Homo sapiens: one gene and its partner. The protein of the gene in region 2 purifies or fractionates together with the protein of the main gene of each other region. This does not show direct contact. Each region holds a gene or a part of one and is shown on either strand. Other genes may lie near its edges.

Evidence for each region.
Region 1: the proteins of SLC22A13 (region 2) and CMSS1 purify together in Homo sapiens (affinity purification with mass spectrometry; one large-scale study listed by BioGRID and IntAct). This does not show direct contact.

Annotation. Positions count from the first base shown.
Region 1 is NC_000003.12:100,178,976-100,183,060, reverse strand, and holds the end of CMSS1 (protein CMSS1), read right to left. Parts: 3' UTR 1,329-4,085; downstream 1-1,328.
Region 2 is NC_000003.12:38,267,837-38,273,594, forward strand, and holds part of SLC22A13 (solute carrier family 22 member 13), read left to right. Parts: intron 1-5,758. UniProt on the Homo sapiens protein: Anion antiporter that mediates the transport of urate, orotate and nicotinate in exchange for organic or inorganic anions. Translocates urate and orotate across the apical membrane of proximal tubule epithelial cells and involved in urate renal reabsorption.

The DNA of each region.
Region 1 (4,085 bases), about 62 Mb from region 2:
TTAAATATACATTATATGAATATACACATGTAATATTCATGATAGTCTCATATTTTGGCGAATTAATAGCCGCTTGGCAGATTGGTCTGAATTCTGACAGCACAGACCACAGTGTCTTAATTTGCAAGTCTCTCCTCTGATACAATCATACTTGATGGCTTTTTTTCCACATTAATCTAAGACGTCACTTGACAGGAAGTTAAATGCCTCTATTGAGAAGGTATGTGGTCCATTTTCTTTCTTACCATTGGCCAAGAATATCTCACCTGTTAGGGTTAAAGGGATGAAAGTGATAGGGTTAAGTTTAGCGATAGCTTAATGTTCATTCTGTGGTGGTTTTTTTTCTTTTAACTTACTGGACTCTAGTGGGAATCCTGGAGAATGGAACCTACTCCTCTTTCCTCTGAGTTCCTGTGTGTGGATTTCAGGCCACAGAGGTGCAAGGTGCATGAACAACAAGGTGCTGGTGTGCAGGCCTGTGTGATTTCCTGGATTTTGACTTGCTAGCCTGTTAGGCTCATTTACAATTTCACAAAATTGGAATGTAGAATTTTATATATCAGTAATGGCATCTGTTTGCTTTCCTATCTCGTTTGCTGTATATGCTTGAGTCTCCAGATAAGTTGGGTGTCTTGAAGTGGATATGGGAGACCTGGGTCTGACTTCTGGTTCTGCTACTTAAACTAGTGTATGTCCCTTCTCAGATTTAGTTTCATTGTCTATACAATGTGACTTACTTTTTCTTTTGGGACTATTTCAGTGATTAAACATGACAGCTTATATATAAATGAAAGTTGTAAACACAGTGCTTGGCACAGAGTGGGTAACCAATCAACATTATTTAAATGAGTAAGAAAAGTGAATTTGAGCAAAAAAATAAAAAACAATACTATTACCTTATAACTCATAGAATAAAATAAGTATCAATGAGTCCATACTGATGTAAATAAATAATTGAACAAACAAGGAAATGGGGGAAAGGAGATAATTCTTTCTTAAAGAGGAATTCTGTAATAAATGTAACACATGTTGAAGGAATGAGAAAAATAGAAAAACCATTACAGTAATGGCTGTCGCAGGCAAGAACTACCAATATTTGCTAGAATTAGCAGGCAAAAGTTTGAGGAAAAACAGATATTTGTATAGCCTCAAAGTACTGCCCCTAAAATAGATATTAATTACAAAGGGAAAATAATAACTTTATAGAAAAAACTGGCAGATACCACCTTAGCCAGGTGATCAAGGTTGACATCACTGGTAATAAGACATATTAACATTATGTACCCCTGATATAATAAATCCAGAAGGACATACTCACTTCTGTGGTATTCTGGTCAAAAAATGCATAACTTTAATCAAATCATGAGAACATTACAGACAAATCCAAATTGAAGGACATTCTACAAAATACACGATGGATACTGTTCAAAAGTGTGAAGGTCATGAAAGACAGGGAAATACTGAGGAACTGTCACTGGTCTGAAGAAACCAAAAAGATACAACAACTAAGTAAGTGCAATGTGGGATCCTGCAGTGAATCCTGGAATAGAACAAGGACATTAGTGGAAAAATTGGAGAAATCCAAATAAACTCTGTAGTTTAGTTAATTATACAGTACCAGTGATGACTTCTTAGTTTTGATAACTCTATTATGGTTATACAAGAATTTAACACAGGGAAAGCTCAGGGAAGGGGATATGGGAATTCTCTATTTTTTAAACTTTTCTATTAAGCCTGAAGTTTCAAAATAGAAAGTTTTTAAAAAAAAGTTAATAAGACAGCTGTAATTATATTGTTGTCTTTTTATACGTTTACAAAGGGCCAAATTCACTTGATGCTCTTTCTACCACTACCCTGCTGATGTGGTTTGGCTGTGTCCCCACCCAAGTTTCATGTCGAATTGTAATTCCCAGTGTTGGGGGAGGGATCTGGTGGGAGGTGATTAGATCATGGGGGCAGATTTCCCCCTTGCTGTTCTCATGATAGTGAGTTCTCAAGAGATCTGATTGTTTAAAAGTGTATAGCACTTCCCCCTTCACTCTCTTGCTCTCTTGTTGCCACAAGATGTGGTTGCATCCCTTTCATCTTCTGCCATGATTGTAAATTTCCTGAGGCCTCCCCAGCCATCCTCCTGTACAGTCTGTGGAACTGGAAGTCAATTAAACCTCTTTTCATTATAAACTACCCAGTCTCAGGTAGTTCTTCATAGCAGTGTAAAAATGGAAGAATACAAAAAATTGGTACCAGAGAAGTGGGACATTTCTATAAAGATACCTAAAAAATGTGGAAGCAACTTTGAAACTGGGTAACGGGGAGAAGTTGCAACAGTTTGGAAGGATCAGAAGAAGACAGGAATATGAGGGATGTTTGGAACCTCCTAGAGACTTGTTGAACAGTTTTGACCAAAATGCTGATAGTGATATGGACAATGAAGTCCAGGCTGAGGTGGTCTCAAATGGAGATGAGGAACTTATCAGGAACTGGAGCAAAGGTCACTCTTGCTATGCTTTAGCAGAGACTGGTGGCATTGTGCCCCTGCTTTAGGGATCTGTGTAACTTTGAACTTGGGAGAGATGACTTAGGGTATCCGGCAGAAATTTCTAAGCAGCAAAGTGTTCAAGAGGTGGCCTGGTTGCTTCTAAAAGCCTATGCTCATTTGCATAAGCAGAGATAACTTATATTTAAAAGCAAAGCAGAGTATAAAAGCTTGAAAATTTGCAGCCTGACCATGTGGTAGAAAAGAAAAGCCATTTTCTGGGGAGAAATTCAAGCTCACTGCAGAAGTTTGCACAAGAGGAGCCAAATGTTAATAGCCAAAACAATGGATAAAATGCCTCCAGGGCACTTCAGAGACCTTCGTGGCAGCCCTCCCCAGCCCCACCAAACAGGCCCAGAGGCCTAGGAGGAAAAAAATGGTTTCGTGGGCTAGGCCCTGGGCCCAGCTGCTCTGTGCAGCCTTAGGACATGGCAGCCTAATTCCCAGCTGCCCCAGCTCCAGCTGTGACTAAAAGGGGCCAAGGTACAGCTGAACCATTGCTTCAGAGGGTGCAAGCCCCAAGCCTTGGCAGCTTCCACGTGCTGTTGGGCTTATGGGTGTGCAGAAGGCAAGAGCTGAGGTTTGGGAGCCTCTGCCTCAATTTCAGAGGATGTATGGAAACGCCTGGATGTCCAGGCAGAAGTCTGCTACAGGGGTGAAGCCCTCATGGAGAGCCTCTACTAGGGCAGTGCAGAGGGGAAATGTGGGGTTGGAGACCCTACACAGAGTCCCCACTGGGGCACTGCCTAGTGGAGCTGTGAGAAGAGAGCCATCATCCTCCAGACCCCAGAATGGTAGATCCACTGACAGCTTACACTGTGTACCTGGATATGCTGTAGGCACTCAACACCAGCCTGTGAAAGCAACCATGGGGACTGTACCCTGCAGAGCCACAGGGGCAGAGCTGCCTAAGGCCTTGGGAGCCCACTCCTTGCATCAGAGTGGCCTGGATGTGAGACATGGAGTCAAAGATTATTTTGGAGCTTTAAGATTCAAAGAGTGCCCTGCTGGGTTTCAAACTGGCATGAGGCCTTTAGCTCCTTTGGGCCAGTTTCTCCCACTTGGAATGGGAGCATTTACCCAATGCCTGTACCTCCATTGTATCTTGGAAATGACTAACTTGTTTTTTATTTTACAGGCTCATAGGTGGAAGGAAGTTGCCTTGTCTCAGATCAGACTTTGGAGTTGGACTTTTCAGTTAATGCTGGAATGAGTTAAGACTTTGGGGGACTGTTGAGAAGGCATGATTGTGTTTTGAAATGTGAGAAGAACATGAAATTTGGAAGAGGCCGGGGTGGAATTGACATGGTTTGGCTCTGTGTCTCCACCCGAATCTTATGTTGAATTATAATTCCCAATGTTGGGGGAGGGACCTGGTGGAAGGTGACTGGATCATAGGGACAGATTTTCCCCTTGCTGTTCTGCTGTTCTCATGATAGGGAGTGAGTTCTCACAAGATCTAGTCGTTTAAAAGTGTGTGGCATTTCTCCCTTCACTCTCTTGCTCTCTTGTCGCCATGTGAAGATGTGCTTGCTTCCCCTTCACCTTC
Region 2 (5,758 bases):
AATGTTGCTAGAGAAGAGGGGAAGGCCTCTGCAGGTGGAGAATAAGAATAGCACAGGAAAGGCCTGGCAGCAGGAAGCAGGCAGGATGTCTGGGGAGCAGTGGGTGTGCCTGCAATGGGGTCAGGGTGGAGGGGTAGGGGTATAGGAATTAGATGGATGTTTTCAAGGATTTGGGACCTCTGTTCTTTGGTGTTTGTTTGACACATCTGAAAAGAATGCATACACAAAGAATTATCATGTGAGAAAGCATTGGTTAACGCTAAGGTAATAATTAGGATTTGTGGAAGGTGGAAAAAATTACCTAAACATTTTTAGCAATTGGGAACTGCAAAATAAGCCGATAACATCCCTGTTAACACTTAGGAAGAGTCTTCATTCATGACATCTGTTAAACTAGAGAGCCTCCATTGGCTGTTGGAAGGTTCCTCAAACACAAAACAGAAACAAGGGGAGTCCCTTGACTGGTTCCCATGTTCTTAAGTGTTCTCCCCGCCCCTTCTCCAACCTCAGCTCCTCGATGAAGCAGACCTCCATAACTTGAAAGAGGGTGTTATCATTCCATAGACATCTATCTTATACAGAGCATCACCCTCACATTTCTTCTACATGCTGGGTCTTCAGCTGCGTTCTAGGAACACCATGTCACACACTCTTAAGCTGCACATTTATGCTAAGCATATGAGAGAATGACAGGAAAGACTTTTTTTCAGATTATGAACTCACTCCATTTAGTGTATTTCAGAAGGTGCATACTTCTCTTCATCTGTCAGTGAAAGAAGTTGGAAATTAACTTTGAAAAATAAATCAGCAAATAGCAAATTTTCTCAAAAGTTACAGTCACGTATATAGGGCAAGAAATGAGGAAGGGCAAGACAGACTCCACCCACATTAGTGAGTTTCATCAAACACCCAAGGGTGGAGAGAAAAGGCAGCTTTCAGAAAGGACTGTGTTATGAAATGAGGCAGGTGGGGAATGTGTTTTCTAAACTAGATCTAGGAAGTGGAATGTGGAATCAATCTGTCCTCCTCCCTTTAAGGACTGTCCACTGGTTAATAAATTTTTTAAAAGACTAAAAAATAAACTCCTCACACACAAACACCCGCAAAACAAACAAACAAACAAACAAACAAAAAAAACAGCATTAAGATGTCCCATGTTACTCTCGAGGGGAACCAAGGAGCAGCTTAACAATTAGCATTAGTGTACTAGAGAGTCATTACAAGCATGCCTTGCTTTTAAGCAAACAAAAAAATTTTTTGAAGCAACAGAACAAACGAGTACTGATCACTTTTCTGACAATAAACAATGATTCAAAAGTAACTAGTATTAGGATGGGGAAGGGAACCATACCTATGAGCCTTGTCTTGCAAGAGTATATGTTGGTAGGATTAGGCATTTGTCATTATTGCAGAGAATGAACTTCAATTTTTTTTTTTTTGAGACAGGGTCTTGCTCTGTCACCCAGGCTGGAGTGCAGTGGCGAGATCTGGGCTCACTGCAACCTCCACCTCCTGGGTTCAAGTGATTCTCTGACCTCAGCCTATCAAGTAGCTGGGACTACAGGCATGCACCACCATGCCCGGCTAATTTTTATATTTTTAGTAGAGATGGGGTTTCACCATGTTGGCCAGAGTGGTCTCGAAGTCCTGACCTCAGGTGATCCACCCGCCTCAGCCTCCCAAAGTGCTGGGATTACAGGTGTGAGCCACCGCGCCTGGCCTAATTTTTAATTCTTAGTTTGACTTAAACCTTGCTTTTAGTGTGATGGCGACAAAAGCTGAGCTGAAAGGGCTTTGGAGAGATGTTCACAGCAGCACATGCCTGAGGCTCTCTCTTCTTTGGCTCTGGAGGCTTGGTTAACAGCATTCTTTTTTTATTTTATTTTATTATTATTATACTTTAAGTTTTAGGGTACATGTGCACCATGTGCAGGTTAGTTACATTTGTATACATGTGCCATACTGGTGTGCTGCACCCATTAACTCGTCATTTAGCATTAGGTATATCTCCTACAGCTATCCCCTCCCCCCTCCCCCCACCCCACAACAGTCCCCAGAGTGTGATGTTCCCCTTCCTGTGTCCATGTGTTCTCATTGTTCAATTCCCACCTATGAGTGAGAATATACGGTGTTTGGTTTTTTGTTCTTGCGATAGTTTACTGAGAATGATAATTTCCAATTTCATCCATGTCCCTACAAAGGACATGAACTCCTCATTTTTTATGGCTGCATAGTATTCCATGGTGTATATGTGCCACATTTTCTTAATCCAGTCTATCATTTTTGGACATTTGGGTTGGTTCCAAGTCTTTGCTATTGTGAATAATGCCGCAGTAAACATACTTGTGCATGTGTCTTTATAGCAGCATGATTTATAGTCCTTTGGGTATATACCCAGTAATGGGATGGCTGGGTCGAATGGTGTTTCTAGTTCGGTTAACTGCATTCTTTAGGCCCTTCTCTGTGAGTGCAGAATGCTCTGCATACTCAACAGCCTTCCAGTCCGAGGCCAGTCTGGAGTGATAGGCTTCTGTTTTTTGTTCTTGGCAAGTTTTACAAGAGTAGAGGGATCATTCTCTGAGATGAATTTGGGTCTCGACAAGCAAGAAAGGAATCTTTGGATAGCGGTGAGTTATCACAGGCACCCACTTTTCTTTCACATTTTTGAATGAGGACGGAGATACCACTGAAAAACTGACTAGAAATACATCTGTTTGTAGATACTTAGCAATTGCAATCTTTTATAACCCTCTTGCCCAGAAGTGTCAAAAAGTCCAAGAGCATATGGCTCTCCACCAACCATAACCATGACCACATAGTTGTTAGAAATAGTTGGTACATTTTCAGATGTAAATTTGTTTGTTGTGTAGGATATCGGTATGTTTTACCAATGGCATCATTGCTTACAACAGCACACTTAATGGTCTGCATTGCTGAAATAGTTTTGTATTTACTTTAAATATTTCGAACTTGATGTTGACCTCAGCTTCTCCCTGGGGCATGGCGGCACTCAGGACCTCTCTCCTAGACAGTGCTGGCATTGCAGTTGGAACTTGGGCCTCTCACTCTACCCTAACATGCTCTCCTCACCCCAACTCTTCCAAAGACTGTGACTCCCAAGGAAATGAATGCTTTGTGCCCTGCACCACATGCTAATCCCAAGCTCAGTTCCAGAGTGCAGCTGGCTTTGTGTGATCTTCTATCTCTGGTTTTCATCTATGAGGAAGGGTTCTGCCCATTGACCCAGAGGACCCTCTCTGAGCTGACACCTAAGCTTCTTTATTATAAATGGTGACTTCATATTTAAACTTAAATGCAAACAATACTAATTTGAAAAGAGAAAAGTATATTTCCATATAGGCTGTGTGCTCTTGAAGGTCAGAATATGTTTCTCCTTTTCAACCTACATTTCCTGGGCGTCCACCCTTGGTAAAAGAAAAAAAATGGGCTGGGTGCAGTGGCTCGTGCCTGTAATCCCAACACTTTGGGAGGCTGAGGCAGGAGGATCACTTGAGCCCAAGAGTTCAAGACCAGCCTGGGCAATATAGTGAGACCTCATCTCTACAAAAAAATAAAATAATCAGCCAGGCATGGTGGCACATGCCTATAGTCTCAGCTACTCCAGAGGCTGAAGTAGGACAATCGTTTGAGCTAGTAGTAAGCCGTATTCATGCCACTGCACTCCAGCCTGGGGAGACGCTTTCTCAAAAAAAAAAAAAAAAAAAAAAAAAAATGACTCCCCTGTCTACGTGGACCTTGGAATGGGAAGGTGGGAAGACCATCAATGAATAGCAACAATCATGTGATCTGTCCAGCGACCAAAGAAGTAGGAATAGGAGAGAAGGGGAAGCAGAAAGAACAACCATTTCTGGGGTCTGGAGGCGTGAAAATGCCTGGCATATTTAGGAATGCTGACATGGCAAAAGAGACTGGGAAATAGGCAACAGCTAGCTCTTCAAGGGCCTTAGATATAGTGCTAAGGAATTTGGGCTTTCTCCTAGAGGCCAAAGGGAGCTGTTGAAGGTTTTGGAATAGGGGAGGGATCCGGGATGGGGTATACGCCAAGAAATGAGGGTGGGATTCTGCAGACCACCATGGCAGGCTGCAGACAGAACCATCCACTGTGGGTGTTGGGGCTGGGGAGGATGACTGGCATCCCAAGTTGGAGCCCTCTTCATCTCTACCACCTGCAACATGACAACACCATGAGAGCTCAGGCATATCTCGGCGCCTCTCCAAGCCTCAGTCTCTGCTGCTGCACAAGGGGAATGATAAGCCATTATGGGGTTAGAATGAGGATTTAATGTCATAGCAGGTATATAAACTGAAGAGAGGTAGTGAATGGTGGCTGTTGACCAGGTGTGCCAGCCTTAGAAGACTCCAAGGCTTGGTGCTCATGCCCACAGGGCACTTCACCCCCTTGTGTCTGAGCTGTCTGCCACCAGGTGAGAGCTTTGTGAGCACAGAGGCCAGCACAGCCTCACCCTACATAACAGGTGCTGAGAGCTTCGTGTGACATAGCCACTGAGCTAACCATGTTACAAATGTTAGTTCCTTTCATTATATCAGGTGATACTATATAGCATATTTTATTCACATTTTGTAGTGGGAAACCAAGACACAGACAGATGGGCTAACAGGCTCAAGGTCACACAAAGCCACTCAATTCTGACTCCTGAGCCTGGGAACAGTAGGCCTTTATTATTAGTTATTTTAAATGCCATCTTACTACAAAGGCAATCTGTGGCTGCTAGACAAAAACCAAACAGGATAGAACTGGCTGGAGCAACAATTTCAAGTCCCCTGTCCTTCCCTACTTCATTCCCAGGGGCAATCAGTTCATCACTTGATACATGTTGAAAGTTCTTGAAAATTAACAGTTGTCCTTAAGAACAGAAGTATGAGCACAATGGTAACTCCTGGACTGGTTAATTTCTTGCTAAAAGTTATTTAACTGATGGTGATTGGTTAATTAGCTAGCTGTAGGCATTAGTTTATGTCTTCATTTATTCATTCATTCAGCAGACATCCTCTTAGCCTTCACTCAGATTCATTCCCTGTCTAGGGCAAGAGAGATGTCTCAACTCTACCAGCTGCCATCCAGCTGTAGGACCAAGGGTTAGCTGCTTAAACTTTCCTTTCTCGGGAAGTTGATAATAAGTGAAGGATTATTATTAGAATTCTGTGAGATCATGCATGTAAAGTGTTTAGCAAGCACCCAGCACAGGGTAAGTGCTCAGTGGTTGCTGCTGGGAAGCTGGAGGAGAGCTCACATGACGGTTCCCCAACAAACATTTGTGTGTGGAACTGGGCTGTGTTCAAGAGGCATGGCGGGACTCCCTAAGGGGCCCACAAACCCCATGGGGTGGGGGTCAGTCAAGTGAGTCAAGTGCACATACAATAGACGTGTGTACAGAGTGGTATGGACCCAAATATCTTCTCCTCTTGGTTTCTCAGGCTGTGGGATTCTCTCTATAGGTCTTGGGTGGATTAGCATTCTCTGTGTCTCTCTCTTTCTCTGTCACACACCTGCACATTCTCTCATTCTCTCCCTCCCTCCCTCTGTGTGTGCGTGTGTACGTGTGTGTGTGTTCCTCTCTCCTAATCGCCTTCCTCAGGGCATGTGTGAGGGCTCCTTAGGATTCTGATTGCCTGTGAATGGTGGGTACTTCAGGGGGATTTTGCAGCCAGGTAGAAAAACATGGAGAGACCCAAGTGTGTCCCAGGGGTGCCCTGGCTATGGAGAAGCGGCCCCATT